Linked DNA regions of Homo sapiens: regions 1, 2, 3 and 4 are each reported to be linked to region 5. Evidence: microRNA targets listed by miRTarBase, many of them from high-throughput screens and not tested one by one. Region 5 holds a microRNA gene; each other region holds the end of a gene's coding sequence. Distances are from middle to middle.
The links. Region 5 holds the annotated microRNA hsa-miR-548b-3p (CAAGAACCUCAGUUGCUUUUGU, at 2,809-2,830, opposite strand). A microRNA usually pairs through its seed, bases 2 to 8, with sites in the 3' UTR of a target mRNA and lowers its output. Matches are read on the target gene's strand: a 7mer-m8 pairs with bases 2 to 8, a 7mer-A1 pairs with bases 2 to 7 and ends in A, and an 8mer does both.

Region 1 (6,421 bases), not on the chromosome of region 5:
CTTTAAATGAAACTACAAAATAGCAGCTGGTTTTAAAAACAAAGCCAATTGTTTTAGATTTAATAGGCTACCACTGGCCTCTGCTAAGATCCCCAAATATATTCCTGAGCTCACATAGATTCCAGAAAGTCAAACTTTTCAATATTATGCAAACTTTCCCTATGCATCCAAAAAATTCTCATTTAGTAAAGAGGTGATATGAAATGTAAGGCAGCATGTCCATATCTATCATTTTAAATTGCCTTCATGCTGTATCAACTGGTTTTGTTTTGGGAAGCAACCATAATATTGAGAGACGGGTCTTTCCTATTTTTTCTGCTACTCATTTCTAACTAGATTCACTACGGAGCTCCCAATTGCATCTCTCTGATCTACAAATTTTTCTCTCTTCAGGAAGACACCTGGAAAGAAGGGACTACATTAAAGGAGTGTGTTGGGGGCAATGCTTTGGCCTTTTGACATCCTATCTAGTCTGAAGGGACCCTCACTATTGCTAAGGAGGAGGAGTGTTTTAAATGGAGGCTTCAGAATGAAAGCAGAGGAAGAAGGTACTCTCTTTTTCAAAAAGAAGGAGGGTACAGGCCGGGCGCAGTGGCTCACGCCTGCAATCCCAGCACTTTGGGAGGCCGAGGAAGGCAGATCACGAGGTTGGGAGTTTGAGACCAGCCTGGTCAACATAGTGAAACCCCGTCTCTACTAAAAATACAAAAATTAGCCAGGCATGGTGGTGCATGCCTGTAGTCCCAGTTACTCGGGAGGCTGAGGCAGGAGAATCGCTTGAACTCGGGAAGTGGAGGTTGCAGTGAGCCGAGATCATGCCACTGCACTCCACCCTGGGTGACAGAGTGAGACTCTCAAAAAAAAAAAAAAAAAAAAAAAGAAGTAGGGTACCAAGTCATCCACAAGGCTGTGGGAAAACAACAAAGCCAAGAGGGCACCCCATTTTTTTGGAGTGAAAACCAACAGGGGCAAAGGCATGCTGTAATTTTAAAGAGACAGAGAAGATCACCTCAGTGAGTAAGCAGCTGGTCTTTGTCATTCCTTAAAGAGGAGACAGAACTTTTCATGCCATATCGTGAACCGGGGTGCAAAGGCTCCCGGTAGGAATAACACATCAAAAAATTTACTCCAACATGTGAATAATTGATAGCAGAGCCCTTTTCTAGCACTTTGCATCGTGATGGTGGTGCATGTTTGGGAGGGAGGTCACAGAAGAGGAGCAACGATGGGCAAACTAATTTAGCTTGCTTAAGATTGCCAAAAGCTGGGAGGGTCCAGCCGGCATTGAGCTGAGGCCATCAGGAGCCTCCCAGCTAGAGAGGCTTTGGGAATAGCTGTGGGAGCAAGAGAAGGAACGGGGAGGGGAGAAGAAGGTGGGCAGAGAAGGTGTGGAAGGAGGAAGAGCAAGAGTGAGGGATGAGAAATGCCTGGTTTACAAAAACCAATCCACTTCTACAGGCCTTAATCAAAAGAAAGACAAACGCTCATGTAAAAATCCACACCTAGAGGCTCTCAGGCACAGAGCGATCACAGGAGAGGCAGAGTGTGCAAACAAGCTTTCATTAAGAGACCTGTCAGCTCTGTTTCATTTCTCCAGGCTGCTCTGCATTCTGCTGGCAATCCAGCCGGAAAAATAATGGAAGGACAAACACGTCTGAACAGGCAAACAAAGGTGGGAACATTCCACCTACAGAACAGGACAGATCAGAAAGATGCCAGGGAGGGGGGATGAGATGGCTTTTTTCTGAGCAAACAACCATAGCCCCTCCCCTTAACTCCAAACTCATCGGAAACATGATTTTCTGGCTTTTTATGCAGCAACAAAAAGACATGGGGTTCAGAGACAGCACCATTGGTTGTCTATTCCCAACTCTCTTACACATCCCAAGATATGATTCTGTTTTGGTGTTCAGCCTTTTAGAGTCTGAATGTCTAGCGACAGGGCCCTTCTTCAGTTCTTAAGGGTGAATCTTGGTGAACCTAAACAGATCATGGTAATACCATCTCCCTTGCTAAGAAATGGTTAAGACATTGCCATGTGACATCATCATGTGACAAGGTCTCATGCGACCACAAGCCCCAGGTGATCATTCTGACCAATAAAATGTGATAGGAACTGGGTTTCTCGCTCTTGAAACACACACACACACGTATGTGGGAAGAAACTTCCTTCTGCCTTTGAACAGGTGTTATCTGGAGCTGTTGCAGCCACCTCGTTATCATGAGAAAGCAGCTGACACAGCAGGAAGAGCAGGAAGATGGAAACCTAGAACCTTGACAACTTTCTTGAATGTATAGCCCTGGAATGCCTTACTTTCGAAGTTCCTGTTATACAACATAATTCATTTCCCTACCGCTTAAGTTTCTGTTAAGTGTGGCTTGAAGCTGAGAGGACCATGACTGATGCAGGGTTATCTAGTGAAGTAGGGGACAGAATGCCACAACCTTAAACTTTGATCCTAAAAAAGACAAAAGACAGCTGTAAGTAATTGCAGAAAGCCCCTTTAATGTCTGTGGAACAGAAGAACCATGTTGGATGGGGAAAGCAGGGGCAGGACACACGTGTCGCGTATCTATGGGGTGTTATCAGGGTTATATCTGTGACAGGATCAACTAACTTACTGGCTCTCATTTCACCTGATAACATAAGACCCTCCCCGCTGACTACACACAGTTTAGGTTATCACTCCTTATGACTCCTGCTCCCTGCCCTGCACCCTAGATTCTCTGGGACTCACTGCAGTTTTCCTGACTCTGATGGAATGTGCTGGAGTCTATTACGAGCCCTGCTTTTCAGAAGGTGCTCAACAGGCCCTGAAGATGTGCATCTGGCCGATGGTGGGTCAAAACCAGAGTTCTGCAGGCTGAGATTTTTCCTTTTATTATTATTAAACTTGGCTGTGTTTTCCTTCGGTGGCTCTGGCATCCTATGCAGTAGTGCTGGACATTTGCAGGCAGTTAAGGCCCAGTACAGCAGGAAGAATGATTTCTGTGACTGCTGGTCTGTGCAAGCCCTCCAGCTGCGGGAGCAACCTCCCTTGAGGAGAAGTTGTGGGGGTGGGCCTGGTGGGGAGGGCGATAGGCTGGGACAGAAGGAAGGATGGAATACTGGACCTGGTGGCCAGGGGTCAATGGGATGTCCTTCTCACCAGAAGCAACAGAACGCCGACTCCAGCATGCTCCCATTTCAACTAAAGTAGTGGGAGACCCACCCAATGTGCATCAAAGGCCTGGGTCCTTCTGGGCTGCACTTTGAGGAGGAGCAGCATAGTAAGGGATGGGGCGCCCATTCTGCTAGCAGAGTGATTCCTGGAGATGCAATCTGGGAGGGATGTATCCACGTGGCTGACCCCTCGTGTCCAGATGTCACATCTTAGTGTCATGAGCCTGGTATAAACATTGAATTTTTAGGATGCATTTTCACTGAGAGGCTACCACTCTGGGAGCCTCTCTTTTTCCTGCAAGGAGCGCCTCTCAAAGGAGTGATTCTGGTTCTCAGAGGCATTCTGAGCTTTGGGATCTAGTCTCAGGCTTTCCAGGGAAGGAAAAAGCTATGGCTGGATGACTTTTAGTTTTCTGCAGTGCCGGATGCCAACTAGAAAAGCTCATTTTTATCTGAAAGGAAAGAACCAGCTAGAATTGAGCATGCCCTCCTTTCCCATCCCTGTATCATGTCCTTGGTTCCACATCCCCCCTTGCCATGCTGTTGTGAAGTTGTTTTGTTTTCCTCTCTCTTTCCCATAAAAGGTCATGAGCTCTGTTTCTGTCTTTAAGATTCCCGTACTTGGTGGCACAAATGAGGCAGCCTCAACATTCTGTTGAAGGAGTGAAGGGTTTGGAAGTTCCAGGTGGTGCAGGAAACTAGACTGGCTCCCAGCAGGTAGATCTTTCCCAAACCTGAAATGGCCATACAATCCTGTATGTGAGACAGGCTGAATGCAGAGAATGAGCATTTCCAGGTGGTAGCTCTCATCTCATCTCACAAAAAAAACCAGACCACCACTGGGAGTCCTGTTCCCCGGCTTTTATGCTCACCCCTCCCAGTCACTTCAGATCAGTTAATTCTCCAGATTTACAAGCTAGAAAACTCCAGCTCTGGCACTCAGCACACAGGCCTCAACCGGGGCTGTGGATTTCAACCCAGAAGCCCAAACTTCTCAGCCGGCTTAAGGCCCCTTCCAACTGCCAGTCTGTACCACGACAGCAGTGCTGTGGGCACAATGCCAAGCACACCCATGCCAGGCAGTCCTCCTGGGCCCTGACTTGATGGGGTGCAGCCATGGGTCCTCTGGACACGTTTTGCTCAATTATACCTTCCTCTCCAGCTGCCTAACCTTGACCAAGATGGGGACCTGATTAAAAACCCCATCAGTTTCTAGCTCTTCCCATAATTTTGATTGACAACATTAAATGCTAATACAAAAACATCTTATCTCTGATAAAACAAAAGCTGACAGAAAGACGGATGCTGAAAACCAGCCATATGGTGGACACGATTCCTGGGCCTGGCCCTGTTCACAGTAGCACTCTCTGGCAGAAAAGAGATGACACTGAGAAGCTTGAGGACCTACATTTAATAAATCAAACTGTACTGGCATCATCAGAATATTCACAGTTTGCAACAGGATCAGTGCGTTTTCTCACTTGCAGACTCGGAGGTATTTCAGGAGAAGGCGACGTGAGCGCACCATTCCGATGCTTCATTCTTGACCCTCTCTGGGGCTTTCAATGTGTCATTGTGTCAGATCCCTCTCCCCTTCAGGTTTTCACGGTGCTCCTCATGCCTCCGCCCTCTGGGATCCCTTTGCCGTCTTCCGGTGTGGAAGCTTTGGCTGCTGGCCGGCTGGCCTCGAAGGAGTCCAGGTGAGATTTAGGGAGCTCCCCCTGGATGGCCAGGCCTGGCGGGGCTGGCCCCGTCTCACTCCTCTGACCTTCTATGGGACTCTCTCTTCTGACCTCTTCCAGTTCTGCAGCTGCCTGTTCCTTTGTCAGTTTAATTATTTCCCTCCCAAGGCTGTTTACTTCTTCCTCAGAAGGTAACTGGGGTAATGAAGGATGAAAGAGCTTGCATTGGTTCCCGCGGCTCTGATTTGCTGGGGAGTTGACAGCGGGCCTCCCAGCATCCTCAGGCGCTGTCAACGCCTCAGCAGCGGCACAACTTTCATCTTCTTCTTGCTTCTGAGCCTCCCCTGAAAACAGAACGAGGACAACATTAAACCTCTGGCAGCAAATCAGCCCTCACCGCCCCTCTTCTGCCAACCTCCTGCCCAGCCTACCAGCACAGGGCCTCTGAAAAAGGAGCAAGACTTTTTTGGCTCCCTGTGCAGGGCAATGGAGCCAAAGGGGAACACAGGACCCAGGTGAAACCAGCGAGCATGCATTCTAGTGATTCCTGCATTATTAACAGAGGGCAAGGGAGCACTTGGGCCATGTCATAATCCATCCTTTCCAGGCACCTGGTTAGCTTCTGTTCCATTCTCTAATGGCCGCTCCTTGTGCCCATTAAATATTTAAATTGAGGACAAAGGTTTTGTTGGTTCTGCAGCTGAGAGCCAGGGCTTGTTAGTAATGAAAAAAGGTTCCGGCTGCATTGAGGGTGGGAAGAAGAAGGATAGTTCGGGAAGGATTTAGTGCCACCCCTTCTCCACGATTCTCCATCAGCATCTCATTCCTTAATGCGGACACCTAGTGTTCCTCAATATCAAATAAATTATATGCAAATACACCTTCAAGCTCCCTCCCCTGTTGAGTTGTTGTCCCTAAACCCCTTCTCTATAGGATGGAAATTCTAGCACTGCAACAGGAAGGACATGGGAGAGAAGGGGGAGCCCTTAAAGTGCTGACATCCAGCCCTCATTTCCCTACTCACTTGCTTTGTGATCAGGATAGGACTCTCTGATGCCCCTTCTGGACCTAACCAGCAATGCTTGCTCTGCATGAGTGGGGAGCAGCATGGCGGAGCCAGCTCTTAGTACCCGGGCATGTGCATTCAATAACAGACACTGAGTTTCCCCAGAAGCCAATCTCTTCCCAGCCCTCAGGCTAAACAGTGAAGAAAGGTATGACAGAGCCACAGTGGGACTGGGTTTAGCCTGGACACATGTCCTGGACCAGGAATGAGGGGCCCCCAGGAACACTTTCTGGTACCCCTGAATGGAACCACAGCAGAACCCTGCTGTAGTGGGGCTTGCTATCATATATGCGCAGGTATGTTTTCAGGCTGTAAGTTGGAACTTGGGGAGCTGGAGAACTGCAGCAGGTTAGAAAGGATGTTGAGCATCATCTGGCCATGCCATTTTCCTGCTTAAAACCTTCTGCTGGAGCCTTGTCACTTTCAGGATAAATTTCCTTTCGCTTAGGCCCTTACAAGGTCCTGCTGATGTGCTCCTGTTTCACTCTGCAGCCTCATTTCACACAGTTT
Region 2 (6,421 bases), 22 Mb from region 5:
ATTTCTAAAATTTTTAGTTTTTCAATAATACATTAACCTTAGCTTACTCTTTTTTACCTTTTAAACTTTTTCTTTTTTTAACTTTTTTACTCTTGTAAAAAAGCTTAACACACACATTGTATAGCTGTACAAAAATATTTTCTTTCTTTATATTCTTGAATAAGCTTTTTTCTATTTTTAAATTATTTTTTATTTTTAAACTATTTTGTAAAAAATGAAGACACACACGCATTAGCCTGAGCCTACACAGGGTCAGGATGATCAACATCACTGTCTTCCACCTCTACATCTTACTTCACTGGAAGGTCTTCAGGGTCAGTAACGCACATGGAGCTGTCGTCTCCTGCAATAAGGAAGCCTTCTTCTGGAATACCTCCTGAAGGACCTGCCTGAGTCTGTTTTACAGTTAACTTTTATTTTTATAAGTATAAAGAGGAGTACACTCTAAAATAACAATAAAAAGTAAAGTATAGTAAATACATAAACCAGTAACATTCTTTCTTATTATCAAGTATTATATACTATGTATAGTTGTGTGTGCTAGACTTTTATATGACTGACAGTACAATAGGTTTGTTTATACCTGCATCACCACAAACAACACGAGTAAGGCATTACACTAAGACATTACAATGGCTACAACATCACCAGGCATTAGGAATTTTTCAGTACCATTATAATCTTAATGGGATCCATCATTGACCAAAATGCAGCCCATCATTGACCAAAATGTTTTTAATGTAGTGCATGACTATAATCATATGCATGTGTGTCTGTTTATCTGTACAAATACACACTCTAATGAATATGCATATTCCAATTTTTAGACAAAAATTTTTTATTAAACAATATATGAGATCTTTCTTGAAGACATGACTATGTTGATTATAGCTTTAGCTAACTAATGGAATCCATTTTTTCAATGCCATTTCATATAAAAGGCAGGGGGTGCGGACTGGAGAGATCATCCTTGTAAAGCTTTTGTATGCCAGAATGGAACATCTCCTTTCTTCTGCATGGTGACTTGGCTAGCCTCCTGTGGTTTTCTAAGGAGAGAAGATTGAATCACTTCAAATTGTAGCTTGAAGAAATGGTGTTTATTGTCATGTCACAAAACAAGCTCATGCACAGACATGTCTCACATCTGGCTTCTCTGAGCAGTCTTCAAATTTGAGTGAAAAAACTAGAGAGGCTGTGTGTGAACCACCCTAATGCAGTATGTTGTTAAAACAAATATTCTGGCCTACTACCTTGTGTGGTTATGCAGGCCCATAAGAAGTTTGGTTCTAAAGATTCTGAACAGAACAGGTATTTAGACTAGTGAGATAACTACTAGGCACAATAAATCATCTAAAACACCTTCCAAATACAGGGAAGTACTAGAGAATGTAGGAGGAGAAACAATATTTTATTTTCAAACTTTGTTACTTATAAGAAGTTAAAAGAAGAAAATGGGATATATACTGAAATTGCTACACAGGTCTATTTTATGGTTACAGAATTTTTGTTTTAATACTTACGCTTGTGATACAAGTCTTCCCATTGTAATCATACCATCATTGTCCTTAAATAATATTCCATGAATGCATTTTATTACCCGTGAGCATTATAATATTTCGGAAGGTTAATGAACTTTTACATGTCATTTTTAGCACACATTTTATATATAAAAATCATACTTTAATACATCTTAACATCTAGGTTTACTCACAATAGATATAAAGCATTACTTTTTAAGAAGTGTTGTGCTAAGCCTGCTGGATGGATGGCTGAATAGATGGATGGATGGATGATGGGCAGACTTAATTTGTAAATACTGAAATGAAAAATAATGAAAATGTTAATATATTTGCTTTCTTTTCTTTTTTCTTAAACAGGGAAGCCTATAGCAAACTTTTGTCTCACCTTGGACAGATGGGACAAGATGAGATGCAGAGACTGGAAAATGATAATACTTAATATATTTTGTGATTCATCCTGTCTATTAATTATCAGTATCTAAAGCCACATTGTTCCACTCTAATTCCTACTTTTAATTAATTGTATAATGTTCTGTTTAAAATAATTTCTAGGATTTTTTTTCCTTTTATATCTGTAAGTAAAAAATGTATAAATAAGGAACTGAAGGTTAATTAGCAACTGTGTAATAGGATCCTTGGAACTTTTTACAAAACTGCATTCTACCTTGATGAAATTTTAGTTAAACTAAATTAAAGAAACATTTTCTGAGAGTGTTTTCTGTGTGTGAGTATTAAGCAGATACTTCATCCATAGACTTTTTGTTGTAGTATGACTTCCTGCCTCCCTGCCTTGTGACTGATTTGTCATGTTTATTTTTTATTTTTACAATAATAGTTATGTTTTAAAATGATACTTTTTCAAAGTACCTGGCTACCCTATACTGTGTTTTTGGTGGGGGAAAGGTGTTGGGAAATGTGACTGTGTATTTGTTTTTCTTTTTTATATGTGTGAGGCAAGTTAACAAAGAAAACCCTTACAAAGCACACTTAACTGTGTTAGGAATGAGACTGAATCTGGCTAAAGGATTATACAGCTGATATCCAAAAAGAAGTGTAAACATGCCAACAGGGTTTATATTTAGGTTCCAAGAGTTGCCAAATTTTTTTTTTATTCATCCTTTCTTTTGGAGTTGTCATTAAAAAAAAAATCATATCAGGAGGAGGAAATAAAGGAGACTTTAAGAGGAGAGTAAATAAAAATATTCTAGAAAAGTAACAATAGTAGTGGTCTGAGAAGTCAGCTGATCCATCTTCTTGCTCTTTAGCCAGAGCTTCTTATAACTTAGCATTTTATCCAAGAAACCTGTTTAGTTTCCTTTAACAACATTGTTTCTCAACTTTTGAACTCTTAACTCATCCAGATTGTTTTACCAGTTGGAGCTTGTCCTTGACTCCTTTTCCTATTGAGCATTATTTGGTTGAAAGAGCTCCAGTCCTAGTTTTGGGAACCCACCTGGGTCTCAAACTCAGCTTTGCTTTATGATCTTGAGCTAGTTACGTAACCTTTCTCAGTCTAGTTTCTTCATGGAGAAGAAAAGAAGAATCCCTTTACTATTTGACAGTGTTGTTGTGAGAATCAATGGGATAATGTACGTGAAAATATTTGGTGGCCCAAATTCTGTTGGGAAATGTACAGACACGATTAGTTTATTACTCGTGCACAATTAAGGCAAAGAACACCTCTCAATTTTATCTTTCTCTAATGATATGTCCCAGATGAATGATCCCACTTTCCAATGTTTTCTTACATCATGTTTTCTAACTTTGAAGTACTTTGTTTCCTTCTTGGGATTATAGTCTTTATCATGGTTCTACTCTTCCTTCAAGAAAACATTTCAACCCTTCTCTGGCTCAAGGAGTATCTTTAAAAATGAAATACTTTGCAATCAGTATTCTGTAGTTAATAGCGTTCTCTTAATTATAATCTGTGAAATCCAAAGGAGTGTCTGTTATTTTCATAACATATAAATGGTCCTTCTCTCAAATCAGCTTCATCAAAGGGAATAAATGAAAGCTTAAGGCTGTTTAATAGACTTCATAACACTGAATTTCTTTTCATCATGATAGTGACTTACTAAACAAATAATGTATGGCTTGGAAAGTTCCAGCAGTCACTAAGGAGTTTTATCTATTTAAGGTGATGCCTTTAAAGAGGTTATTTATGTGTATATGTGTTTTTGTGTGTGTGTGTGTGTGTGTGTGTGTGTGTGTGTGTGTGTGGGTTTTTTTTTTCCAAAGGAGATTGATAAAGATACCTTTGAGAATCTTGCTCCTTAGAGTATGAAAACGTTTAAAGGATAGGAAAAGCTGCTACTGAATCATGCTTTAGGACATATATCTATAGATACTAAGAATAACTAAAATTTGTACTTAAGAATGGTAACAACAAAGTGTGTAACAATATGTGTGTGTATTATATGTTTTGTATTTATGTATAAGTAACTTTTTTTAAAGCTTTTTTTTAAATTGAAAAAAGAAGAAAATTTATGGCTCAGTTCCTTTTTTTTAAAATCTTCACTGATCCTTCACTTATTACTACAATCTTGCCCTCTTTCATTCCCAGACTTGGAGTCCCTTATACCTGCTTCTTTAATAGCCACTTTCCCTAAATACCCTGTAATTTCTGAGGCTGCTGCTTCTACCAGTGTAATACAAGCCATTGTCTTTTGGTCAAATCTGAGTTTGTTCTCCTTTCTCATGTTCTTTGTCCTCTCTGTGACAATTGTATTTTCTTTTATCTTCCCATCATTTCCACAATGGTACTGCTCCTTCCTACATATACAGTTGACCCTTGAGCAACACAAGTTTGAACTGTGCAGGTCCACTTATATGTGGATCTAAAATACAGTATTTGTGGGATGCAAAATCTGAGTATATGGAGGACCAACTTTTTGTAGAGGCAGGTTCCTCAGGGTTAACTGCAGGACTTGAGTAAGTGCAGATTATGGTATGCACAGGGGATCCTGGAACCAGTCCCCAGACCAAAAATGACCACTGTATCTTGAGAGCACCTTCATGGTCTTCTTTCCTGTCCCCAGTCGTAAGATACGACCCTTCATCTGCTTTGTCTCAACATTCTGTTAGTGGTGAACTGATAACTCCAGCTTTTCTCTCTCTTTTTTTTTTTTTTTTTTTTTTTGTTGTTGTTGTTGTTGTTGTTTTGAGGCAGAGTCTTGCTCTGTCGCCCAGGCTGGAGTGCAGTGGCACGATCTCGGCTCACTGCAAGCTCTGCCTCCCGGGTTCACGCCATTCTCCTGCCTCAGCCTCCCAAGTAGCTGGGACTACAGGTGCCCGCCACCACGCCCGGCTAATTTTTTTTGTATTTTTAGTAGAGACGGGGTTTCACCATGTTGGGCTCGATCTCCTGACCTCATGATCCGCCCGCCTCGGCCTCCCAAAGTGCTGGGATTACAGGCGTGATGAGCCACCTAGTGCTAATTCATCTCTAAACCTCTGTAGTTGGAGTCTCCTGAAATCTCAGACTACCTCCTGCTTTCATTTTCTACCCAGGGAATACACTATTGTCCTAAGTTATTTAGCCTTGAAATGTCAGAGGCATTTTAGGTTCTTCATGTTTCTCCCACTTTCAGTTGATTACCATTACAGGATCTTAGGCTTCTTTTTATCTTTTTGCAGTGCCTTGCATCCACTGGTTGTTTGTTTTTTCTGTTGGGCACTACTTATTTCCTTACCTCTGGTTTCTTCTCCTACAGCTTATGTTCTGAAATGTGTATTCCTAAAATACTGTTTTCCTCTTGTTACTTTTCTGCTCGAGGACTTCCAGTAACTTACCATTGTTTATAAGGTGATGTTCAAACCCTTCAGTCTGGAGACTTTCTGCCACCTATCTGACTGTACCTTTATCTTCAAGCTTATCTCTTTCCAAACAAGAGGCTCATTTAGCAGCTTTCTCTGATTGCCATGTTCATCCTACACTCAGCCTCATTCAGTTTACAGCATGGAAACTGTATAGGACCTCTTTCCTATAGAAATTGAAGACACTTAAATAGGAAGAAAATTAAAATATACATTTGGATACATGAGTATTCCAGTCAAATAATATCTATAAAATACCAGATAGAGTATAAAAGACAACTGAAGGACAACAGAGTGATGAAAGGACTTTATTAGGCATTTGGATTTGGTTATGATTTAAATTTCAATTTAATTAGAACGTTTCCATGGCAAGGAAGGAAGCATGGAGGACTGTGGAAAAGTCATTCAGTATTGAGTTCATTTGCATTAGAGGAATTTCATAGTTTAAAACTTGTATATCTTTACCTATCCTTCGTATGTTTTCTTCTTAAGCATATTTGACTTTTTCTACCTCAGCATCTGTATAAGAAAATATTTGTGAGTCAGATGTTTGTGGGTTTTCCTTACCTATTATTATTTTCTTCCATGCTTTACAACACATTTTTTAAACTACCTTGTTCTTAAATAATTACACGGACCTGCTTCTGTGTACTTTCACAGAATCTTTGACAGTTAAAAATTGTATGTTATATAAAAATTTGACAAGCTTCTACAGTTAGGAAAAGCCTTTAGAAATCTGCCTTCCCCAAACCGTATGTTATCATAGCACTCATGTCTCCCCATGTCTAAAAGGTAAATAGATACAGAAACCTCACCAAAAGTTGAATCATCTGTACTAAACCACTGCTTTTTTATCCAGACTTTTTATATAAATCTTTTATTTTCCAAAAAACTGATCTTTTACCTACCCCTCTTAGAGTTAAAAATATTGCCTGTCAGGCAAGAGTATAGTATGCCAATATAAATAATATGCTTTATTTGGTTAGAAACAGTTGGTTTGGGAAGCTAGCAACATAGCATATTCTTTACAAATTTAATAAGGTGTATTTTGATACTGTGATAACCTGCATTGTAAATTACCAAAT
Region 3 (6,421 bases), not on the chromosome of region 5:
CGAGACATTCAGTGACAGGTAATATGCTGGATTTGTGCAGTACCGATTTGGCTCAGCTGGAGGAACATGTCCCGGAATTCCTCTCTCTCATGGTTCTGGATTGGAGTAGGTCATAAAGAAATTTGCATTAATTTGATCAGCAGCTATTTTATACTCATAAGGTCAGTGTACAGACCCAAGCATGGTGACAGCTTGAAAATATGACTCCAGGCCAAAAAGGGGAGCTAGAAGAGACCAGAGACAGCTCCCTGGACCCAGAGCTCTTCCAGCTCCTGCCAGCCTCCTCCTTCAGCTTTGCAAAGTACTGGCCAGGTGTGTGTGCAGCTCCATGGCAACCAGCATCAGCTTTTCCTGAGATCACACACAGCATTGCAGTGGAGGCCGTGAGACAGACATGGGTTCTGTTTGTTCTTATGGACTTCCCTTCATCCTTGCTGCATTCACAGTCGACCTACAGTGACTTCAGGCCCAGAACCAGATGCAGAGGGAACAGCCTGGCCTAGACTTCTCCACCAGCACCCACAATTGTGTAAGGCTGAAGCTCTATAATAAATCTTTATTCTGTCATTCTCTGATTCTGCCTCCCTGATCCAACCCTGACTCATATGGGTAGCTTGACGATTAATTCAGGGACTCAGTGGTATCAGAGGACCCAGGTTCATTCTTGTCGGAATCTCTTGTCGCCGTAAGAGGACTTCAGCAGTCCTGAGCATTTTCTCCCCATACGATAACCTGTCTCTTCTTAAAATGGAGAAACACTTTCCCAGAAACAGACCTCTGGAATAATTTTCCTCATACCCTAGTGAGCAGATTTCTTTATCTGCTTATGCTGAACCAGTCTAGTGGCAAGAGGACTGCAATTGTCAGGGTTGGCTCAGACAGATCAAAGTGGATGCTCTTGAAAAATCAGGGTACCATTTTGAGCAAGGTGAACCAAATTTGAGTTTTGTGGTTGGCGGAGAGGGATGCACAGCCACAGAGTGAACTAGCAGGTATGTGTGTCGGGCTGTATCCAAAGCAGTCGCTCCTTCTTACCATCGGTCTTAACGCAATGAGAAAACAACATGAAACATTTAACATGGAACTTTTCTAGGGTTTTTTTTTTTTCCTGGAATAGTAATTTTTTAAAACTTCAGTAAAAAATGTTTGGAATTATCCTTTAATAAGCCAATGTTTATATTCAGGAAACATCTCTATATCCCAAACCTTTTCTTAGAAATTTGCTGTTGTCATATTACCAATCCTGAAGTTAGGATGCTATTGTTTCTCCACACCCCAGGCACATACTCAGTAAAGTAAAACTTCAGCTTGGGGATGCATCCAGTTTTGTTATTAAGTATCATGTTCTCTCACTAGGACACAATTTTTAAAAAGGAACCAAGGCTAGGGGGAAGCAGAGATGGTAGACAAATATTATCTCAATGGAGTTTTTCTTCACAATGGAATTTTTTTAAAAGATATCTAAGTTATATTTATTTTTTTAAAAAAAATTTACTTTAAGTAAGTTCTGGGATACACGTGCAGAACATGCAGGTTTGTTACATAGGTATATGTGTGCCATGGTGGTTTGCTGTACCTATTGAACCGTCCTCTAGGTTCCCTCCCCCGCCCCCCACCCTGCAACAGGCCCTGGTGTGTGTTGTTCCCCTCCCTGTGTCCATGTGTTCTCCTTGTTCAGCTCCCACTTATGAGTGAGAACATGTGGTTTGGTTTTCTGTTCCTGTGTTAGTTTGCTGATAATGATGGCTTCCAGCTTCATCCATGTCCATGCAAAGGACATGATCTCATTCCTTTTCATGGCTGCATAGTATTCCATGGTGTTTGTATCACATTTTCTTTATCCAGTCTACCATTGATGGGTATTCGGGTTGGTTCCATGTCTTTACTATTGTAAATAGTGCAATAAACATACATGTGCATGTGTCTTTATAGTAGAATGATTTATAATCCTTTGGGTATATACCCAGTAATGGGATTGCTGGTTCAAATGGTATTTCTGTTTCTAGATCCTTGAGGAATCGCCACACAGTCTTCCACAATGGTTGAACTAATTTACATTCCCACCAAGAGTGTAAAGGCATTCCTGTTTCTCCACAGCCTTGCCAGCATCTATTGTTTGACTTTTTAATAATTAACATTCTGACTGGAATTCTTAATACTTTGCTATTTGTGATAACCCATCACAACATTGTAGCAAAAACAGAGTTAACTACATACAAGGAGAGGATTGTGAAACTGAGGTCAGATAAAATTGGACCAGGTGGCAGTTACACCACAATTCAGAATTTGCTTTCTCTTATAGAGTTGAAACCTTGATCTACTAAGTCACACAAAAGCCTGGTTATAGTGACAAGTTCACAAGCATTAACATTAGACTGTTTCTTTTATGTAAATTGATGACTAAAATTAAGGGAAACAGATTAGGTTAGCTGAGTTCTCCCTTCTCTTGCTTAAAAATTTATATGAAAATCTAAATTTATTAGAAGATTGATTAGCAATATGCCAATTGAGCCAGAAGAGTTGTTTAAATTATCTTCATGGCTAGTCACTCAACTATGCAAGCCTTGTGTGGTCAAGTGTAACCTAACTTCAGAGATTCTTATGTTCATAGTTTCATGTGCATCCATGTGAAGAGACCACCAAACAGGCTTTGTGTGAGCAATAAAGCTGTTTATTTCACCTGGGTGCAGGTGGGCTGAGTCCGAAAAGAGAGTCAGCGAAGGGTGATGGATTATCATTAGTTCTTATAGGTTTTGGGTTAGGCGGTGAAGTTAAGAGCAATGTTTTGTGGGCAGGGTGGATCTCACAAAGTACATTCTCAAGGGTGGGGAGAATTACAAAGAACCTTCTTAAGGGTGGGGAAGATTACAAAGTACCTTCTTAAGGGTGGGGGAGATTACAAAGTACATTGATCAGTTAGGGTGGGGCAGGAACAAATCACAATGGTGGAATGTCATCAGTTAAGGCTATTTTTACTTCTTTTGTGGATCTTCAGTTACTTTAGGCCATCTGGATGTATACGTGCAAATCACAGGGGATGCGATGCTTGGCTTGGGCTCAGAGGCCTGACACATAGGGCCCTTTTCCCTAGCAATCTTAAAGATACTGTCTTAGTCTTTGGTGCCCTAAGATTCATCCCAAATCGAGTTGGTTACCCTGATACAACCGTTCATATAAAACTAGACTAAAATACCTTGTCAAATCAATCATCTTGGTTTCCAGGCTCTGGTTTTTAACCTTTCCACTAAGGTGACTTTGGCTCTTACCTGCTCTCTCACCCATTATCAGTTGATCAGATTGGGAATCAACCCCTAGTGATGCATTTCTTCCAGATTCTTAGTGGAGAGCTCACTGTAACCTCCTGGGCTGACTGTAACAGAAATGTAAATGAATGAGACAGTTCTTTTCAAAGTTAAATTGGAATCCTTAACATCCAGGCATTTATACTCAATGCAGGTAGTGGGTCAGTGAATGATGTCTTGAAAAGTATGTCTTGAAAAATAAATGTGATACCAGAAAATGGTTACAACTCTTTGCAGTGGTAGAATTGTCTGCTCCGACAGGCCATTGCCTGGAATTGTGGTGAAGAAAGGGGAGATGAAGTCACTGGATATTAAGGATGCAGGTCATGAGTTGTCACAGTCTTCTCTCATTTCCTATACTTTTCCTGAAAGAGGCTAGAAGCAAGAAAAATAGACTCTAAATGTCTGTTGTTCAAGTCAGAATAACCATTTATATCTTAAATATTTATTGATAGTAGTGTTTTGGGGTGGGCGGCAAAAAGCTTTAGTCTATTGCTTGCATCTGAAATTAAAGATCCATGAGACCATTATAAAATAAGTCTGAGTCTTATCAGTTAATTTTAATCTCCCTACTAGCTGTTTCATGGTTTTTAACAGTGGAAAAAACAAGTTTACCACACTCCTGGCCCTTATTTATACTCTGATTAATGGAACACATAAATACTAAAAGGAATGCAGTAAAAAGGAAGTATACAATCAAACTATAATTTGCAAGTGAATTATAGTTGTGTTTCTTTCCACTTGTATACAATCCCATGTTTCATGCTTCTATCATAAGAATAAGTACATTGGCTCACCCTCATATGCACAATGCCATTGGAGATCTTCTCTACAAATAACAATAGGAGACAAGAAGAACAACCATGTATTTAAGCAAGTAGAGCCTGTTTAATTATAGACATTGGGAAAAGCCTAATTATATTTTTCGTGCTATATTATCCTGCAACCCCTGCTGCTGTTTTTTTCTGTATAAAAGTCTTGCTTGATGATATGTGAATCAGTCAGAACTTCAATTACCCTTTTAAAGAAGCATTTTTATACTGTATATGGTTTGATAAAGGAAATAATGCCTTACCACATTTTCTTCGCCATTATCGGGTGCACTGGGACAGCGCTCACCAGGAGGGACACAACATCTTTCTACAGGAAAAAAAAAGAGAACTTAAAAATAATTTCTTTGCAAACACCAAAATTCTCCCTTAGTCCTATCTCAATATAATCATGTTATTAGAATCATCTGAGTTACTCTCCCTGCATATCTTTAACAAACAACATGAAAAATGCATTCAGTGTAAAAACACATCATCAGAAGCAGCAGTAAATGTGTATGGTTGATCCAGGTGCTCCAAAGCCGGGGAATAAAGGCAGTTCAGTCAGCTCAGCAATTCCTGGCTCCTTGTGATCCTTGGCCTGGTTCCTACCAACTGCTAACAATGGAAATGTCATAGCCAAAGAGGGGATGAGAGTGATGGTTAAAGAAAAAGGGATATGTCATTTCTCAAAGAAGGTCTCCTTATGGACTTTCCTAAAATATGGCCCTTTAATACATATCTTAGACAAAGTACATTTTAAAACAGTAATAGAAAAGGGAATTTAAAAATAAAACATATGAACCACAGTCATGAAACTACAACCAGGGAGCTGGAGCTAGGAAAGGTTTTGTGGCTTTTCATATAACAGCTTCAAATATATTTTCAGCCCATCTCACTGCAGAAGTATGGAATATATCTATTTTTTAAAGTGGCCAATACTGTGACAGAGTTTTTGCCGATATCTTTTGACTGCTCCTCCAGAACCAGAATCCATTCTTCTCTCAGACATGGGAGGCTGACCTTGTTGGGCTCCATCAGCAGGGTGTCTGCTCCTCCTGGCTTCTAGCTGGGCTGTAGATCAGAGACAGGGAAGAGTGAAATTAGGTATTTACTCTCCCAGCTGTTTCCCTGTAAGGTCACCTTGGTATGGCTCTGTCCTTCAATTGAAAGTCACTCTCTGGTTCTTTGAAGGGTTTTTCGTGTGTCTATCTCCTTCATTTCTGCTCTGATCTTAGTTATTTTTTGTCTTCTGCTAGCTTTTGAATTTGTTCGCTCTTGCTTCTCTAGTTTTTTAATTTTTTTACTTGATGTACAATTTATTTTTATTTATTTTGTATTATTATTATTCTTTTAAGTTTTAGGGTACATGTGCACAACATACAGGTTTGTTACATATGTATACATGTGCCATGTTGGTGTGCTGCACCCATTAAATCATCATTTAGCATTAGGTATATCTCCTAATGCTATCCCTCCCCCCTCCCCTACCCCACAAGAGTCCCTGGTGTGTGATGTTCCCCTTCCTGTGTCCATGTGTTCTCATTGTTCAATTCCCACCTATGAGTGAGAATATGCCGTGTTTGGTTTTTTGTCCTTGCGATAGTTACTGAGAATGATGATTTCCAATTTCATCCATGTCCCTACAAAGGACATGAACTCATCATTTTTTATGGCTGCATAGTATTCCATGGTGTATATGTGTCACATTTTCTTAATCCAGTCTATCATTGTTGGACATTTGGGTTGGTTCCAAGTCTTTGCTATTGTGAATAGTGCCGCAATAAACATACGTGTGCATGTGTCTTTATAGCAGCATGATTTATAGTCCTTTGGGTATATACCCAGTAATGGGATGGCTGGGTCAAATGGTATTTCTAGTTCTAGATCCCCGAGGAATCGCCACACTGACTTCCACAATGGTTGAACTAGTTTACAGTCCCACCAACAGTGTAAAAGTGTTCCTATTTCTCCACATCCTCTCCAGCACCTGTTGTTTCCTGACTTTTTAATGATCGCCATTCTAACTGGTGTGAGATGGTATCTCATTGTGGTTTTGATTTGCATTTCTCTGATGGCCAGTGATGGTGAGCATTTTTTCATGTGTTTTTTGGCTGCATAAATGTCTTCTTTTGAGAAGTGTCTGTTCATATCCTTTGCCCACTTTTTGATGGGGTTGTTTGTTTTTTTCTTGTAAATTTGTTTGAGTTCATTGTAGATTCTGGTTATTAGCCCTTTGTCAGATGAGTAGGTTGCGAAAATTTTCTCCCATTCTGTAGGTTGCCTGTTCACTCTGATGGTAGTTTCTTT
Region 4 (6,057 bases), not on the chromosome of region 5:
AGAATGAAAGTGTGGCCCTGCAGGAACTCTTGGACTGGAGGAGAAAGCTCTGTGAGGAAGGACAAGACTGGCAGCAGATCCTGCACCACGCTGAGCCCAGGGTGCCTCCCCCACCACCTTGCAAGAAGCCCAGCCTTCTGAAGAAGCCGGAAGGGGCCTCCTGCAACAGGCTGCCGTCTGAGCTCTGGGACACCACCATTTGATGTGGCCTGAACTGCAGACTTACAAAATAGAACTGCCTACTGATTCCGGGCTGCAACAACAGAAGGCTGCCTTCTGACATGCGCTGGGGCTTCTCTCCACGCATTTAGACAAAAAAAGCACAGGACACAGACACTAAATATATGAGATCCCGTGTGTGTGTGTGTGTGTTTGTGTGTGTGTGTGTGGGTTCTTTCTTATCCATCTCGTGGTGATACACTCTGATTTTCAAGCTCCTCATTTACGGCTCTGTGCTACCCCTAGGTAGCAAGAGAGAGGCTGGGAAAAGTGTGGACGTGGCCAGAGCGAGAGAGTAGCGGAGGAAAGGAGCAATCCATGCACACTCTGTACAGTTGTTTTTCTACGGTTCAACAGTCTGTTTATTGTACTTCCAATGGTTTTATTATAATACAGTATACGGGACATATATTTTATTTCTTTGTAGCTACTTGTGTTTTATTGGTATTATAAACCTGATAATTATTTACATGTTTATTACTGTAATTTTATAAATTTATGCAATTGGTGGTGCTTCCTTTCTTCAAAATACAGATTTTAAAAAATCATTTCTAGATTATTTTTTTCCTCCACAGTCCTTTTTTTTCACCTAACGCACCTAAATCTTGAAACTACATTGTTGTTTTAGCTTCGCCAGTGTCACCCCTTGCAAAACTATGAATTGAGCCCCATGTTTTAGGTGTTACTCATGGATGAGGAGGCTGTTCTTTCCTATGCCCTGTATTTCTGGATAAGTGGATTGTGTACCCTTTAGTTAAATTTCACCTCCCGACTTCAGCATAGATCACAGGAAATCACATGGCACACGGTTAAACACGTATGGCTTCAAATCCATAGCCGGTGGTGTAAAATGATCATATTCATTCAAAGGCCTACACAGTACAAATGAGCACGCTGCCATGTACTGGTTTGAGCAGTAGGGGCTGCATCGCACAGCGCTCGTCCCCCGGGACTTACACTGCATGATTCCCTCACTGTATATCCTCAACCCTCCCATAATGCAAGGCCTTGTTCATTGATGTGCTTTCGTCGGCTGTCGGAAAGTTCTGAGCAGTGGCTCCAGACCACCTTGTCTTGCTACTTGGAACTTTTTATTCATACCAGCCTTTGAAAAGTTACTGTGCCAATAAAGAGGTACAACTGTGTTCTTCTATTGTTTTTGTTGTTGTTATTATTGTCTCCCATGAACTCTTGTGTTTTCTGGTCAGAGAAGTAGGGACAATGAAGTGATCTCACCCAGACTCCCTTAATGTGGGGGCCATAGCATTGTGCAAACTTTAGACACCAATGATGTTTTACAATACAGGCTTTATGATGATTCCAGTATGGTGAGACCAACAGGTCTGGAAGGGAGTCCCATTGAAAAGACGGCTTGTCATCCTCAGAAAGCTCAGAGAAGAGGACACATAGTGCCATCAGAGGGCCACACCAAGGTCAGCCAGGAAGCAGAGGGCATAGGGGGAGCCTTTTATTTTAGTTTGCACAACACTAGGAAAGGACAAGGCAGGATCAGCAGGCATAGAACTGACTGCTTTGAGAAATATCGGTGGGTTCTGGGTTAGCGGAGCCATCCCTACCTGTCTGGGACCTAGCCTTGAGGTGATTAGGGTGGGTGGAGAGTGGCCTGGAATGACAGCCCTATGAGAGCCCACAGGGGAGACTTACTAGGGATGTGGGCTCTAGATTGGTTGACTTGTCTTTGAAAATCATGTTCTGGGGTGAGTCATCATTATCTTTTGGACGTGGCTAACCCTGGAAATGGCAATTCCTCCAAGGTCAGCAGGGCCCCAGATGCCAAAGCATCAGAACACAGCAAATAAAAGCACATGGTCAATATGTAGTTACTGCAATGTTACTGCAGCCACCCAGCAACCACAAGGAAGTGTTCTGCCTGACCTCCAGCCTGACGACAGCCGAGTCCCATTCCCTGCCTATTTCTCTCATGTTTTTCCCTTCTGACTTCCACCCCCGCGAAGAAGCAATGGAAGAAGCCAACTTTCCCTTGATACATGGCTTCTTGGGCCATGCTATGGACATAATAGGCACTTAATGATCTTAGTTGAATTAAAACTTTGAATTGCATTCTCCTCCCCACAATATATTTAGGCCAGGGTGAAAAATAAACTGTTTAAGCATTGCACATTGCAAGAACTTGCTTCAAATGTTCACTGAGCATTGTGCTGACTGTGCGAGGTGCTCAGCCCATGTGATTCCTAAACTGGCTATTTTGGTTAGGGCTGCTGTAACAAATGGCCATCAGCAGGGTGGCTTCAACAACAAGCATGTATTCCCACAGTTCTGAAGCCTAGGAAGTCCAAGATGAAAATTTCCACAGATCCCGTGTCTGGTGAGGGCCTGCTTCCTGGATTGCAGATGGCCATCTTCTCATCGTACCCTCGCATGTTCAGAGAAGAAGGGGAGGAAGCACCCTCTCCGGTGTCTCTTCTTATAAGGGCATGAATTCCATCACGAGGCCTCTGCCCTCATGACCTAATCATATCCCAAAGACCCTGCCTCCAAATTTCATCATACTGGGGATCAGCGTTTCAGCATAGGAATTCTGGGAGGACATAGTTCAGTCCACAGCACTGACATATGCCTACAAGGTAATTTTTATCATTTTTGTATTGATACTGAAATTGAAGCTTATAGCTTTAAGCAGCCCATCAGATATAAACTCTCATCTTTATGATTCCAATGTCCATGCCATTTTAATTTGATATACAGAAATTGCCAACTTACTTTATGAAAAGACACCTGAAATGATGATGCATGACCATTGTAGGGAGACCTTACGTGAAGTAAGGAAGTCACAAGCCACATGTGTGTCCAAACCACACAACTCCCTATTAACCCAAGTTGAAGCACTGGGGCCTGTGTCATCACTAGGTAAACATTACAGTCACCTATTAGGGTACTATGAGCATCATGAACATGAAATATTTAACCTCTCAGTAGTCCCTCTGCCTCATTTAAGGTTTGTTGACCTTCAGACACTAGAAGCCAACCCGCTTGTAGATAGATTGTTTAAACACAATCTTCTAAATCAATGTGGACAGACCCTTTAAACACAATCTCCTTAATCAGTAAGTAAGCCCTTTTGTGTTTAGTTGTTTGGATTCTCCGCTGTGGAAAGAGATTGCAGGTGTGTGTTAATCACTACATTAGGACCATCTGATTGTGCCTGTTCTAATTACATGATATGAAAATCAGCAGAGGCTCAAAAGCATCAATAGCCATGACAGTAGTAACAGTATTAACAGTCACAATAATACGAAGTCCAAGCCTTCGTGTGGATTAAAGTTACTCTCAGAATGGCTCTCTAATGATTATACTTTGTCAAGAAAATAAAGAGGTAATATTCTGGGTAATAAAGTACTGAATATTATTCTACATAAGCAAGATTTCAGCTTTTATGTGTGTTTGCAAAATATTTAATGGTGGTATTTTAATTGCCATCAGACCATAAGGTATGAATTAGGATGTATTATTGAGGCTTCAAACTTATGTTCAGCAATATAATTGGTATGAATTATTACCCTATGTTCAAACACTGCCCACTTCTATTGCTTTTTTAAAAAAATTATTTATGAGAGCTCTCTAAAAACCACTATCCAAATGTTTACAATGAGTTAAAATGATTTAAAATGTATTTCCCAGGATGGAAAAATATATCATCACTATTCTTAAATAGTGGTATCTAATTTAGTTAGAATTATGCTTATATAAATCTGCTCAATAAAAGCAACAACCAATTAAAATCTAAGATTTATGAATGGACTTCACAAATAAACATTACACAACTTGGACAAAAGGTATATTATGAATTCCAGAGTCTGAAAGGATGGATGAACTTTTGTCAAAATTCTATTGCTGTCAGTTTCCAGCCAGACATCAAACTCAACTCGTATCACAATAAAGGGCATGAGGGTATTAAATAATAACGTTCTTCAATAGGACACGTTTCACCCATTGACCGTCACTTGGAACTGCTCATTTTTTCCTAATCATTTAAATGTAGTTTTTGATGAGAAATGAATGGAATTGATTTCTATTTCTCATCAGGAAAGTTTCAATAAAAAAGATTCTTAAATTAGCTGGAGGAAAAAAAAACTCTGTTCCAAGTAAACATTTAGTGTAATTTTATTACATTTTTCAAATTGTTTTTAGCTGCACATAAAAATCCATATAATGAAGACGAAAGCAATTAAATTTCTATTTACTGTGGAATAGTGAGTTCTGTGTGATACTCATGGGATCCCAAAACAGTAGCACTGCTTTCAAAAAACTAAAAATATCATCTCCACCCCCATTTTTCTTCCTTTACATCTTATTCATAAGCAATGACTTCATAAAACAAATTCTACTACCAACGATGTTCTGTGCTGCAAGGCGTCCACGTGAGTTACAAAGATACCCATTAGATAGCAAAAGGTTGTAGCATGCTGAGTTACAGACTGGGAAGAATAATCTTTGTAGTTTTTTTCACTTTACCTAAATACTCCAAACCCCTGCGATGTTCTATTATTGTGGTTTCAGTAAGTTTCTCTAAAATCCAGGATGCTTTATAAACTTTAAAGATGTTATTTTTCAAAGGGTATGTCTTAATAGGTGCCTATAATTCATCTCTATCACCTGTTCTAATTTCTCAGATCATTTTCCAGGCTTTTTGAAATGTGCTTATACTTTAAATATCATTCTTGTGTGCTTCAACATCAGCATAATATAATCTGAATTTTATGTAGTTTACCGGATCATTATAATGGCAGAAGAAAATGTTGATGTCCTCTCATAAGAAAATAATTAAAGGTGAATAAATCTATGCATTCATTTCTATTGTTGTTTTATAATAGGAATGTATCAAATGTGTCTTTTCTTTCCTTTGAATTAGTCATGGGACAGACACCCTGCATATCTGCCAGCTTGCCTTTCCCTGTAGCCCCAGGGAACAAGCGCTGCTTCAAAGGAAGGCCAGCGAGCCTGCTCAGATGACATTTTCCTGATGTCACCATTTGGCTTCTGAAGTCTAAAGAAAATGAAAGAGAATGAAACTATTGATAAATTCCAAGGGAGGGGGGGATCAAAGCTCTAAAGAAAAATGGAATAAAACCAAATTCAATTTGAGTTTTTGATCTTTTAAGATTTCAACAAACAAAAGGGTTGGAGGGCCATGATCTAAAACAATTAATTGAAAAATGTATACATTCTGTCATATTTGAAGAGAGGTTTTCTTTCCGAACTTAATGTTTATGATAAATTGCATTAGACTTTTGTGTGGCAATAAGAAGAGCATAGCCACCCGACCACTCCCTATTATTCTTCATCAATATTATTGTTGAATAAGATAATTACATTTAATATCACAAAGCTAGTGTTTTGGACACTTTTTAATACAAATAGGTCATCTATATACACCTGTTTTGTAGGGGAACTAGTTCTTCAGACAATTATAACTGCATTTTGTGGTTGGAGAACTATTGTCATTCCCTTGGGCTTAGAAACTGTTACATAAAAGGATGACCGTCTATATTTTTAAAAGCAAGAAAATTTTCCCAGCAAAAGAGAAAAAGAGGCCACAAGAAATCCACCGAGTCATGGCCTCGGATGCTCAGGGTGTCAATGGTAAGGAATTAGGAAATCAGAGGTGACACTGTCTCATTACTGACGTGTTTTTATCCCGTACCAAGAACTCTTATTTTTCAGCCTCAGAAGGAAAGGCAAACCCTACAAAGACATAATACTTGCTGCCCACAGTCTTCAGAAGCCAAAAGTTTGCCCACAAAGACTCAATGAGAAAAATTCATTAAAGGTACAAGTCACTCTACCTCCCAGTTTTGC
Region 5 (6,421 bases):
AGTTTTACTGGGCCAAAATCTGAAGGCTCTTGGGGAGAACTTGTTTCCCTGCCTTTTCCAGCTTCCAGAGGCCACCTGTGTTCCTTGGCTCCCTCTTTCACTTAGAAGGATCCTTGTGATTACAGTTGCCCATCCAAATAGTCAAGGATAATCTCCCCATCTCAAGATCCCTAACCTAACCACATCTGCTAATGCTAATGTCAGATAACATCTTCACAGGTTCTAGGTATTAGAACGTGAACATCTTTGAGGGTGCCATTGTGCTGCTACAGTCCAGTTCCATAATTTTCTCTAGCAATGCTCCACAATCCAGAAGTAAGAATAGAGAGAGCAAATAGCAACAGTGACTCAGGATTGAAGGTTAAAGATATACATGGTCCTAAATAGAGCAATATTATAGTAATGAGCTTGGCTCCAGATCAAATTGTTATTTATTCCAGGACAGTTATCTTTGCCAACTCCCTCATGATCACAGTAGTACTCTTAACTGGGTTCCTTTTTCTGATAATTACTAGGGGGTTGAAACAAGAAAGTGTGGACAGATATGAATTGAATTGCAGAAGTTTTCTGTATGTTGCATAAGGTTAATTCAGAAACATCCAACCAAATGTGCTATAGCCTCGAACTGTATAAGATTTCAAGTTATCTTTAGGTACATAGACAAAGACTTTTAACAAAACCAACTCCCACAGTGACAATTTATGCTAGAAAAGAAGTAACTGCAAACATGTTTTAGGCAAATGATGACTATGAAAGATTTTATTTAAACTAAAATAAATTATTTTTTAAAGGTTTTGCTCCATGCCCTGGAATCATTTACATATTTTTTTTCCTTTTTCTGATGTAGGGCAATGTGATAGATTCAAGTTTAGATCTTGAAGATTACAATTAACATACAAGGAAAGAATTTATCCCATGCTTATGATTGTAGGGTGGCCTGTAGGTGACTGGCAAGTCACACAAAAGATTAGTATTTCAGCCTCCATTATCCTTTCCACCCCTTTCATCTGAGGGTGTTTACTGAGATAATGAGAGTCAAAGTCACACTCATGTGAGGGTGTTTAGGGTGGTAATAAGAGTCATAGTCACTTAGGCCCCTAACAATAGCTGATAAACAGCAGGAGCTAAGAAAACAGCAGATGCAAAGTTGTGCTTCCATTTTTAGATACAGTTGATCTTCTTTACTCATGGACTCCCTATTTGTAAATTATCTTACTTGCTAAAATTTACATGTAACCCCAAAATCTAACACTCAAGGTGTGCTAAATAACCTTTGTTCAGGCATGAGTTATAGTGATATTTGGCTGTGGCTTCACTGTTAATGGATCAATATATATTTTAAAAGGTGTTTTAAACAGAAACACACATAAAACAAGGTTATACATTGATCAGTTGGTGAAAATGTTGTGACCAGAGGGTGTCAGGAACCTAGCTCTGTATTCTCCCTAGACCATGCAATACAACGACCACGAATAATGAGAACTGACTATATTTTATTTGCTGCTCAACCTTTACTTGACAGCTATGGTCCCCAACAATGTAGACTATATATCCATCAGAAAAGAAAATATAGCTGGGCACAGTGGCTTGCACCTATAATCCCAGCTACTCAGAAAACTGAGGTGGAAGGATCACTTGACCCCAGGAGTGTAAGGTTGCAGCAAGCTATGATGGCACCCCTGCACTCCAGCCTGGGCAACATAGCCAGACTCTATCTCTAAAAAATAAATAAATAAACAAACAAACAAAATAAAGACATATAAAAACCTACTTTATTGTTTTTTTGTGTGTGGGTTTTTTTTTTTTTTTTTTGAGATGGAGTTTCACTGTGCACCCAGGCTGGAGTGCAGTGGCGCAATCTCAGCTCACCACAACCTCCGCCTCCTGGGTTCAAGCAATTCTCCTGCCTCAGCCTCCCGAGTAGCTGGGATTACAGGCATGCACCACCACACTCGGCTAATTTTTGTATTTTTAGTAGAGACAGGGTTTCACCATGTTGGCCAGGCTGGTCTCGAACTCCTGACTTCAAGTGTGATCCACCCACCTCGGCCTCCCAAAGTGCTGGGATTACAGGTGTGAGCCACTGCGCCTGGCCTAAAAACCTACTTTATTGTTAAAGAGTATGTCAGCAGAGGCTTAACCAAGTGGGGAGGGGATAGTGGGTACAAACTGACTTCTCTCTCCTGCATCAATTATCTCCTTTAATCTTTATAATAATTCTATGAAGTACGCTTTGTCATTCTCATTTTACAGATGAGGACAAGACAGCCCTGAGTGGTTAAAATATGTATTAAAAGTCAAACACTAGGAAGTGGTGAAGGTGAACTTCAAATAAGGGAATGCCTAACTTACTGAACCACACCTCTGACCCATATGATGGGCACTGCTGCCTCACTGGGCCGTTTGGCTCTGGGAACAATGTGGCTCTCCGGCTGCCCATGAGAAACCTAAACCTAACACAAACACATTAACTCCGGGGTTTCCAAGACTGAAATTTCCTTTTACCCGCTCTACCCCCCAGCCAAATATATTAGAGATTTGTAACCAGAATATGTCAACTGAGTCATCAAAACCTTATTAGAGAATTTAGAAGGTATCAGTATAGTTTCTTTATCCAAGAAAAGCACGTACATAAGTTCTACCCAAAAAGAACGAAACCAAATAGAAAAATTTGCCCATGATTACACATCTAAAATTTGTCAGAATTAATGTACTGATAAATATGTTGTAATTAAAATATATGATTAATATATTCCAGTTACATTTTCTCAAGTCTGTTGGAAAATATATGTGAAGTATTAGGTTGGCACAAAAGCAACTGAGGTTCTTGCCATTGAAAATAAAGGCCAAAACCACAATTACTTTTGCGCCAACCTAAATATATAGTCTGAAATGGAATAATAAATAGTATTAAATAATTAATAGTACCAAGCACAATGTCTTTCATAAAGTAGGCATTCGACAAGTTTACCAAACACATAGACCTATATATTCTACTTCGGTCATATCTAAGTATATTTTATTACTCTGAGTAGACCATTAAACACACACACACACACACCTTCCTCCCAAAATTCACTAGGCGAAACATCTAAAGGTAGGCAAAGAATACTATTTAGTATTTTGGTCATAAAATGTTTTCTGAAAGAAATGAGAATCTTTAAAACTGTGCTTAAGGAGCTACAGGATGAAAAATGCAAATACCTGTGAACACATAGACACACATTCGCCAGAATAAACAAAATCTGCTCAACCACCAAGGCCAATGTCTAGAATTTGTAAATATCCAAATGCGACACTTCATTTTATAAGTAAAAAAGACATGACAAGTAAAAGGGCAAGTAACAATTTATTCAGAAATTAAATATCAGCATTCATGGATTTGGCCTAATAGGACTAGCATAAGTTTGGTCCAATTTCCTATATATGCACTGATGATCCTAACAATGATCTGGAGTTGATGAAGAACTCCAGTGTGATATATGAATGGTATGATGTAAATGTAAGTATACTATATGAGAAAGTGAAAACTTATTAACCCCTATGGAAACTTCTAGTTAACTAAAATAATTCATTCTCTAATAATTTCGCATAAATAGGAATTTACCCTGTTATTTTACTAAAATTATCAATTTTATTGATAATTTAAATATTAGTAATGCACTTTATAGATGAAATGTTTTACTTTCCAACTTCCTCAAACTTTGGTATAGAGATGGTACATGTAAATAAGGAAATACAGAATTAGCAATTAAAAAAATCAAAGTACTATCTCCTTTACAATTAAATGAGGTAGCACATGGTAGCCAAGTCTAAAATATCCAAATCCCACATATGATTGTTAATCACTAAGTCTTGTTTTTCCATGTACTATAGATCCTTTGATAGTTTCAGCTTCCATTTGCATCTCAAGATAATAGTGTAAGATACAGGATAAAAAATTCATATATTCAACTTCACTACTTTTTATACATTCTCGTTGAAGTTTTGGTAGAAAAGAAAGATGTAATCCTTGGTGAAATAAGGTTACAAATGACAGTTGTTCACTGATGTAATTTAGTTAAAAGTTAAGAATCAGAGATTTTCTAAAATTTTTGCTTGGTCTTAAAGGTTAAGCATACCAAAATACAACTGGCAATCTCCAACTTGCAAATATCATTGTTTCAAAAATTCATTTTTATATATTAATTGATTGGCAGCCAAAGAATATTTTCCAATATTTTGAAGGACCATTAACTCTCTAGGTCAATCTAAAAAGCCCCCTATGGTTTAGACCACACTTGACATATAAAATATAAACCTAATAGTTTGATATGATTCCCCCATATCAAACTACCATTTATAACATTGTTTTTCTTTATTTTTATTTTTTAAAAAGTAGAGATGGGATCTCAATGTTGCTGTTTTTATTTATCTATTTATCTAATCCTGAAATCAGTTAGTGATTGTCTCCCATAGGTGTCTATCTCCAAAAAAGGGACATGGGGCACCAATTCTGACATTTACTTAATGTCCTTTACATTCTGAAGTGGGCTGCAGGATAGAAACTTCCTGTGGTGAATAAAAAGAATGGCGTTACGAACTCCCGTCATTCACATCCTTTCCATTTCATGGCATAATATTCAAATTTATTTGAATGCTTATGAAGATTTTCTTTAAAAAAAAAAACTCACAAGATCAATTGAAAGGGCAAAATAACAGTATTTTATCAATACTCCCCTGGCCCCCATTACCTCCTATTTTCTTCCACAAACTAATTAGCTTTATAGACCCAGGTTATTCTTCATTCCCATCTCACATTTAAGAGATACAAAATTTTCAAAAATATCACAATTTTAAAAGTTAAAGTATAGGGAACTTATTAATTAAAATGAAGAAATTACTCCAGTCACATATTCCTGCTGAATCTTTATCTTTCATAACACTTTTTAAGACTGGTGATTAGAGGCTAGCAAAGGATTTTCATAAACTAAACAGATAGTGAATCAATAAAAACTGGAAAACTTGCAATTTACTGTGTTTAGGAATGGGGTCTAAGCAACAATCTAATCAAGAATGAAAGCAGTCAAAAGAAAGACATTTAAAATAACCACAGTAGTAATTTTCACACCAAGTATGGCAGTCTCTAAGTTAATGTTATTTTAAATACGTTTCAGTTTGGAATGACTAAACCTGTTAATAAAAACATGAAAATATTATGACATTTAGCTGACAGCACACACAATAAACCTCTGTTACAAAGTGACCAAGTCATAGTATACAAAATATACAACCTATAAACCCAGAAAGTTCCACAGTAAGTATACAGAGGAGACACAGGTTGGTTTCACCCTTATCAAAAATTTGATTCAGATGGTAAGTAAAACATGGTTCCAACATGGAAAAACAATAACTCTGTGGTCTCTTATTGAATAAGTAATATTAGAAAGAAGGTAGACACAGGGAAAAGAGGCCTGTTAGTGTGGCCACCCCCACCTAGACCAATCTAGAGAGCTGAATGTGAGTCCAGGTTGAGTAATCTTCAAATGGCACCGAGCCCTCACACCTTCTATACTTATAAAATGAGAGGGTCAGCCTGGTCACAGTCTAAAGTCTAAACCTTTAATCTTTTTTTTTTTTTTTTTTTTTTTGAGATAGAGTCTTGCTCTGTCACTCAGGCTGGAGTGCAGTGGCATGATCTCAACTGCAACCTCCGCCTCCTGGGTTCAAGCAATTCTTGTGCCTCAGCCTCCCAAGTAGCTGGGATTACAAGCACCCACCACCACACCAGCTAATTTTTTGTATTTTTTGTAAAGACGGGATTTCACCATGTTGGCCAGGCTGGTCTCGAACTCATGGCCTCAAGTGATCTGCCTGCCTTGGCCTCCCAAAGTGCTGGGACTGTAGGCATGAGCCAGGGCACCCAACCTAAACCTTTAACCTTTAACTCTAAATCTTTAACTCTAAAGGAAGTCCCTTTATAAGTTTGTGACCAGTTAATTAACAGGATACTATGCTTTTGTGTCCATTAGTAAAATGCAACAAATTAATCCAAACCACTCCACTATGACTAAAAGATTACATCCAAGCCACTGCATAACAGCATGGCAAAGCTACAATGTAACAAAGAAAAAGAGATGCTGCATTTGGCATGTACTAGTGCTAAGGTGAAACACAGCCAATTGCTATGTTTTATGAGGCCACTTACCATTCTTGTTCAAAGACTCAAGTCATAAGCAATATAGAATTATTATGAAAGAGTATCTAGATAATTCAAACAAACCAATTAGTGAAAAATCATTTATTTCATGTACAGAAAATAGTATTATTTGAAAAATTCACTGGTTTTGGTGTTATATAAACACATTCTGGTTTTGGATATAGTAAAAGCAGAGTTAGTATAAAATGACTGATCACAAGGCTTTTTTATATTTGCTAAGAA

Region 1: the mRNA of CCDC149 is a reported target of hsa-miR-548b-3p. Seed matches in the 3' UTR shown: 7mer-m8 at 3,625-3,631 and 7mer-m8 at 2,523-2,529.
Region 2: the mRNA of MMS22L is a reported target of hsa-miR-548b-3p. Seed matches in the 3' UTR shown: 7mer-m8 at 5,084-5,090 and 7mer-A1 at 5,953-5,959.
Region 3: miRTarBase lists HHLA2 as a target of hsa-miR-548b-3p. Seed matches in the 3' UTR shown: 7mer-m8 at 2,840-2,846.
Region 4: the mRNA of MYO16 is a reported target of hsa-miR-548b-3p. Seed matches in the 3' UTR shown: 7mer-m8 at 390-396.

The regions. Positions count from the first base shown.
Region 1 is chr4:24,803,631-24,810,051 of GRCh38, forward strand. CCDC149 (coiled-coil domain containing 149) reads right to left here. Exons shown (of 13, transcript NM_001395273.1): 13 at 1-5,189. The coding sequence ends at 4,759. Among named protein-coding and RNA genes, the nearest start is that of SOD3, 11 kb to the left of the region's middle. RefSeq lists an enhancer at 5,113-5,693.
Region 2 is chr6:97,142,344-97,148,764 of GRCh38, reverse strand. MMS22L (MMS22 like, DNA repair protein) reads left to right here. Exons shown (of 25, transcript NM_001350599.2): 25 at 1,878-6,421. The coding sequence ends at 1,959. Among named protein-coding and RNA genes, the nearest start is that of MMS22L, 140 kb to the left of the region's middle.
Region 3 is chr3:108,374,514-108,380,934 of GRCh38, reverse strand. It overlaps HHLA2 (HHLA2 member of B7 family), which reads right to left. Exons shown (of 10, transcript NM_001282556.2): 8 at 5,135-5,185; 9 at 4,378-4,442; 10 at 2,650-3,677. The coding sequence ends at 3,657. It overlaps MYH15 (myosin heavy chain 15), which reads left to right. Exons shown (of 41, transcript NM_014981.3): 41 at 1-567. Among named protein-coding and RNA genes, the nearest start is that of HHLA2, 81 kb to the right of the region's middle. RefSeq lists an enhancer at 2,947-4,146.
Region 4 is chr13:109,206,634-109,212,690 of GRCh38, forward strand. It overlaps MYO16 (myosin XVI), which reads left to right. Exons shown (of 35, transcript NM_001198950.3): 35 at 1-1,372. The coding sequence ends at 203. Among named protein-coding and RNA genes, the nearest start is that of MYO16-AS1, 42 kb to the left of the region's middle. RefSeq lists an enhancer at 4,484-5,683.
Region 5 is chr6:119,066,254-119,072,674 of GRCh38, forward strand. MIR548B (microRNA 548b) reads right to left here and starts at 2,890; the gene lies at 2,794-2,890. The region is part of intron 1 of FAM184A (family with sequence similarity 184 member A); the gene reads right to left.